Homo sapiens: one gene and its partner. The protein of the gene in region 1 purifies or fractionates together with the protein of each later gene. This does not show direct contact. Each region holds a gene or a part of one and is shown on either strand. Other genes may lie near its edges.

The links.
Region 2: the proteins of UNC13D (region 1) and RPRD1A fractionate together in Homo sapiens (co-fractionation; one large-scale study listed by BioGRID). This does not show direct contact.

The regions. Positions count from the first base shown.
Region 1 is NC_000017.11:75,830,894-75,834,404, forward strand, and holds part of UNC13D (protein unc-13 homolog D), read right to left. Parts: coding exon 3,432-3,511; intron 3,251-3,431; coding exon 3,182-3,250; intron 2,153-3,181; coding exon 2,073-2,152; intron 456-2,072; coding exon 350-455; intron 277-349; coding exon 205-276; intron 1-204. UniProt on the Homo sapiens protein: Plays a role in cytotoxic granule exocytosis in lymphocytes. Required for both granule maturation and granule docking and priming at the immunologic synapse.
Region 2 is NC_000018.10:35,991,936-35,994,564, reverse strand, and holds part of RPRD1A (regulation of nuclear pre-mRNA domain-containing protein 1A), read left to right. Parts: intron 1-1,264; coding exon 1,265-1,414; 3' UTR 1,415-2,629. UniProt on the Homo sapiens protein: Interacts with phosphorylated C-terminal heptapeptide repeat domain (CTD) of the largest RNA polymerase II subunit POLR2A, and participates in dephosphorylation of the CTD by RPAP2.

The DNA.
Region 1 (3,511 bases):
GGGCCCCTGTGCTTAGGAGGACCCAGGCTTGGTTTCAGGTTCTGTCGTCACCGTTCTAAAATTTGTAATAACTTTTGAATAAGGGGCCCAGTTTTTCATTTTGTACTGGGCCCCATAAATTATGTAGCCGACCCTGGACATAGGTGAGTGCCAAAAGGCAGGCTCCCCAGACTTCCTACGGGGAAGCTCACCCAAAGCCCCTACCTGGAAGGTGGCAGTGTGCAGGGCCTTGGGTGGCAGGCCACAGCCCTCAGCGTGGAAGCAGATCTCCAGGTTCTGGGGGAGATATCAGAGGTGACCCCAGGCACCCTCCCACCAGGGTTATCATTGCTGTGACCGGTTCTGTTACCTGCAGGGCAATCTTCAGCCTGTTGGAAGCCAGGGATGAGCTGCGCTGGGAGGCGGCCGCCTCCACCAGCACTGTGAGTGTGTGGGTCCAGAGCAGGGTCAGGAGGCTGGGGCGGGGCCGGAGGGATGCGGACACAGCACGGCAGGGCGGTGGCGGAGGAGGAAGCAAAGACGCTCTTGAGAAAGGGGCGGCCTCAGTGACCCAGCCCCACCCCAGCTCCTCCCACCCCCAACCTCCCCCTCCGCCTCCCACCCCAGGTGAGGCTGGGGAGAGGGTGGGTACAGGACCAGCAAGGGGCAGGTGGGATCAGTCCTATCCAACACACCTCTCAACCTCAGTGAGGAACCCTCCCCAGCACACTAACGGAATGCACAAACAAGGCTGGAGACAGGGAGGAGGCCAGGCCCCCAGTGACAACCATGATTTAAGACAGAACCAGGCCGGGCGTGGTGGCTCACGCCTGTAATCCCAGCACTTTGGGAGGTCGAGGTGGGTGGATCAGGAGGTCAAGAGATTGAGACCATCCTGGCCAACATGGTGAAACCCCGTCTCTACTAAAAATACAAAAATTAGCCAGGCATTGTGGCACGTGCCTGTAGTCCCAGCTACTTGGGAGGCTGAGGCAGGAGAATCGCTTGAACCCAGGAGGCGGAGGTTGCAGTGAGCCAAGATTGCACCACTGCACTCTGGCCTGGCAACAGAGCAAGACTCCATCTCAAAAAAACAATTAGCCAGGCATAATGGCATGCACCTGTAGTCCCAGTTACTCAGCAGGCTGAGGCAGGGAATCACTTGAACCCGGAGGCGGAGGTTGCAGTGAGCTGAGATCGCGCCACTGCACTCCAGCCTGGGCGACAGAGCGAGACTCCGTCTCAAAAAAATAAAAAATATATATACATGGTTTAAGAAATAAAAACGGCCGGGCTCCGAGGGGCCCTGGCTTATACCTCTGGGGGTGGAACAGAACTCTAGGAGGGCTGCGGCCTCTTCAGGGCCCAGATTCCACAGGGAGGTGGGGCGCTGTCATCATCATCGTCACTACCGCTAATAGTCACTGACCACTTCCTTTGTACTGACACCACGCTCAGCACCTCACATGACCCATTTAATCCTCAACAGAAGCCAGAACTACTCTCATCTGCACCGGGAACTTGCCCAAGGCTGCTAAGCAGTGATGAAGCCGGAGTCTGAACCCAGGTGGTCCAGAGCCCATGTGCTGGACTCCACCGCCTGTTGCCTGGCATGCTGGGTCCCTGCTATAAGACACCCTAGCTAGAAGTTCTCCCTGCACCGTGGGCAGGGACCACCTGTAACCTAATGGGGGCAGAGGAGCAGGCAGGGAGGCCCTGAAGACAGGCCTGGGACTAAAGGAGAAAGGACAGGTAGATTTTGGCTCAGCCTAAGGAAGAACTCAAAGCACTCAGAGCTAGGCAGCAGGAAATGGGGAGGCCTGAGAAGTGGCAAGCTCCCCGTCCCTGCAGCGAGCCTTAGCAGAGCCTGTTGCACCCATAAGGGAGGTCACCAAAGGGATTCACCTCCACCCCTCAGAACGGATGCTGAGGCCCAGGAAAGAGGGGCCGTGGGAGGAGAGGGGGAGGTGGCGAGCGCGCCCAGGGCAGGGGCTGCTACACCCCTCAGAACGGATGCTGGGGCCCAGGAAGGAGGGGCCGTGGGAGGAGAGGGGGAGGTGGCGAGCGCGCCCAGGGCAGGGGCTGCTACAGACCTGCTGAAGTTCTCCTGCACCAAGTTGGTGTTCATGTAGCAAAGCTCCACCTCCAGGAACTTCATCAGGGGCAGAATGGCCTGGGGAGGGAGATGGGGAGCAGGTGTGGCTCCGGCCCATGTTGGCCCCACCCCCATCCCCTTCCCCTGACCTGGAGGGAGGAAACAGGGCTGGGAACCGTTCTGTGAGAGCAGTTTGTAGTGTCTGTAAGAGGCCGGCCTGCCCACCTCTCTGCCTTCCCCTCTCCGTTGCTCAGCCTGTCCCAGCCACACTGGCCTCCTCTACAGCCCTGGAACCTTCCAGGCATGGTCCTGCCTCAGGGTCTCTGCCCTTGCCGTTCCCTCTGCCTGGAATGCTCCTCCCCTAGAACTTCTCATGCCTCCTCCCCTTGCTTCCCGTAGGTCTTCGCTCAGTTGTCACGGCCTTCCCTGGCCACCATCTAAAAATACAACCCTCTGACACTTCTCAGCCGCTTCTCTGTTTTAAATTTTCTCTGTAGACTTATCATTATCTAGCACACTGCATGTGTGTGCACGCGCATACACGCCTGTGCATAGAGTTAACAGCTATAACTATCACTATAGTTATGGATACTCACTATGTAGCTCTTTTTTCACCTCCACTACTAGAACGTGGGCTCCAGGAAAGCAGGTATTTTGTCATATTGTTCACTGACCTATCCCCAGTGCTTAAATCAATGCATAGGACAAAGTGGGGACCTAATAAATAGTTGGTGAATGAATGAATATCCTTCTACCCGCCAGTCGAAGGTGTGCATCATGATATGCCCCCACTTACAGGTCAGCTGGCTTGTGTGAACAGGACGGCAAAGCTAGGAGGCAGCTGAGAAGGATGTGCACCCTGGCCTGTTTGGCTGCAAAGTCTAAGCCGTCCCCAACTGCAGCCCCCTCATTGACTGTCAGTGCTGGGACAGCCAGTGGAGTGACCCAACCCGTTCCTGTGAGCATCCCAGGAGGAAACTGAGGCCCAGGGAGAGAACATGCTTTGCCTGGTCTGGGGGACTTATCTTTGACACCAAGGCCTTCAATGACCCCAGATCTACAGAGCTGGCAGGGTGGTGAAGGCCAGCAGGCAGAAGGGCCACTTACATCCTCAGGCAGGACAGACTCCCTGACGCCCACCAGTTTCTGGATGTGCTTGGCGATGCCCACCTCCAACTGGAGACACAAAACGGAAGAAGGAGGGAGGTCAGGGCATGAGTCGGGGATGGAAGAGTTCCTTAGGGCCTGAGTTTAGACGCACGAAGGGGTCAGGGTTGGACCTTGGCCCAGGTGCTGCTGGAGCCAGGTAGGCTGAAGACGGGATGGGATGGGGTGACTGTGCGGTCGGACAAGGTACCTGCTCGGCCAGGGTGCGGACGCCAGTGCGGATCTCATGGCCCAGCCCGGCCAGCGCGCTCTGCAGCTGGGCATGCAGCG
Region 2 (2,629 bases), on another chromosome or scaffold:
TCAGATAACAGCTCCGATATCCACCTGCTTATGAAGCCTGAACCCTCATTATTCCTCACAGCAGAACCACAACCAATTCCTGCTGATTTTTCTTTCTAAACATTTAGTCTTTGACATTAAGGTATTATTTACATATAATGTAGTTTTTAAAGGACATTGCTCTATCCTTACTACTGTTGGTTTGGTTCGGTTCAGGCCCTAGTCCTTTCTTTCCTGGAGAGTTGCAGTAAACTCCTAGCTGGGTTTCTTCCTTAGATGTTTCCTCATCTATGCACTCTCTAGGATGGTCCTCTCAGGACTTACCTGTGACCACATTTGGAAAGAGCGTGAATCTCCCTGCCTTGTGCCATGCACTGTGGTAATAGTGAATTGCCATGGACATATCTATTTTACTGCCTGCTACTTCCTTAGACCAAATCTTTGAGTCAGGACCCTGGAACTGAGATGGGTATAGTGGGAAGCTTTTCTCTGAGTGATACCCTGTTGTGGGTGCTGAGCTTTTGGAGAAAGGGAGGGGTGCAGCAGCCTGAGGTTGTCTTGGCTTGCCTCTTCTGCTGTGGAGCCACCTTCCTCATGAGTTGGGGGTGAGGCTTATCAGGGCCCAAGTATTCTCAGTCCTCCACGCATAAGAAGGAACTTCTTTTCCAGGAGTGGGGGCTGGACAGGAGGGAGTCCCCAGGCTCTTCCCTGCTCTATCTCAGGACTTAGCTTCAGCACCAGGTAGTTGGGGTAGGATGAGAGGCGCTCTTTCTGGGAATAAAACCCTCCCACTGGGAGTTGCAGGGAGAGTGATCCTGTATTCTTGGCTGCAGCAGTCTGGAGTGGACCCTCCTTGCTTAGATGGGAGGGCACAGGAAGGGAGCAGTCCTGCTTCAGACACCACAGACTCTGGCCATTCCTACTGAGTTTTCATAGATGTTCTTGCCAAATTTTAGTTAAGGTTTATGAAAATAAATATGTAATTTTTCTTGCCCAAACTCAAGAATACCTGAACATCTTATATGTCGAGGTTAAGCACATTAATGTTAGTCTTCTTTCTACTGGTGTGAAGCAACAGCTAAAGATTGTGGTTTTTCTTAATAATAATAGTTTACTAGTTATATATTTCCAAAGCTCATCTTTTGATGTGAAAACTCACACTGGAATAACCTTTTTAAATATGGCATTAACTGAGTATATATAGTACCTGGGTTTATGTAGGTCATTATTAGCTAGGAAGTTTTTTCAATCCCTGAATGCTAATGAAAGTGGTTTGATGTTACAGGAGTACAAGCGCAAGCTAGCCAGAGTTTCCCTGGTGCGCAAAGAACTCAGGTCCCGGATCCAGAGCCTGCCAGACTTATCTCGATTGCCCAATGTCACTGGCAGCCACATGCACCTGCCCTTTGCGGGAGACATCTACAGTGAAGATTGATGGACCAGCCTCTTTCCAGGTCCCAGGACTTTGCAAGAGATGGAGACAGGTTAGGTGGATAGTCCTGTAGTGTTATTTTTGTATATTGTTGAGAAAGAAACACTAACAAAAGGAACAACGAGTAATTTATAAAATTGTTTAAAATGTTGGTTTGTTTACTATTTTATTGGTAAATTAACATGACTTAATTTGAACAAAGTGATGATTTGTGTGTATTAATAAGCTCACAAATAGTGATTATTTTCAAAAGATCTTTTTGTAAATTTTTTTTTTGATCCAAGGCCTTGTGAGAAATCTCTTGTTTGTATTTCTTCAGGTATTTTCAATTGTTTTTCTTTATTTTCTTCAGCATTTAATCACTGTATACTATGTAATTCCTGAAGGGGAAGAACTAATTAGGAGTTGATTGAGACTTTATTATGGTATAGTTAGGACTTGATTGTAGAAGGGACTAAATGTTCCAACATAATCTTTACCCTTCTCCCCAAACAAAATATCAATTCTGTGTCTCTACATGCCTTTGATTCCTTAGAGGTCGGTAATTTAACATAAAACAGGGATGTCACTTTGAGGGGCAGATGAAAGTCTAGAGAACTGTTCCTTAATAGCATTGTAAAAGTTCCATTCCAACTGCCAGTGTAGATTTTAAAAGTGTTAAATAGTGACTCCCTTGATTAAACTGTTTGTAATTATTTGAGTAGATTAATAATGAAAATACTTTGGAAATAATATACATTTTGACATTCTACCAAGAGGACAACTTTGGTTCTGGAACTGGTTTCTATTTGTCAAATCAGTTTCCTTTTAACATAATTAATCCCTTTAACAAAAAGCCGTCTATGGGATTAAAAGACACGTGAAATGATACTTTTATTATTCCCTTGCTCATATAACTTTAAAAATAATACTTTTAGCTCTAATAGCTCAAGAACACAATATTCGTTAATGTTCAGTAAAGTAGCCTGAGACATTTTCAATGTTTCCTTAAGGTTTTTGAATGACTGTATATTTGGCAGTTAAGCAGTGCCACACTACAGGGTAGATATGGTAAATTTTATATTTGTATATTTACAGTTACAAAACAAATGTACTTTTACCTTTTATTTCTGACCCTGTGTGTTAGAGCAGTTGCATGCTCTCCTGCTGTTAAAAACACATTGTTAAGCTGTGGATTTGTACTCAATAATGACTTAGGATAAACATTTATTTTCATTC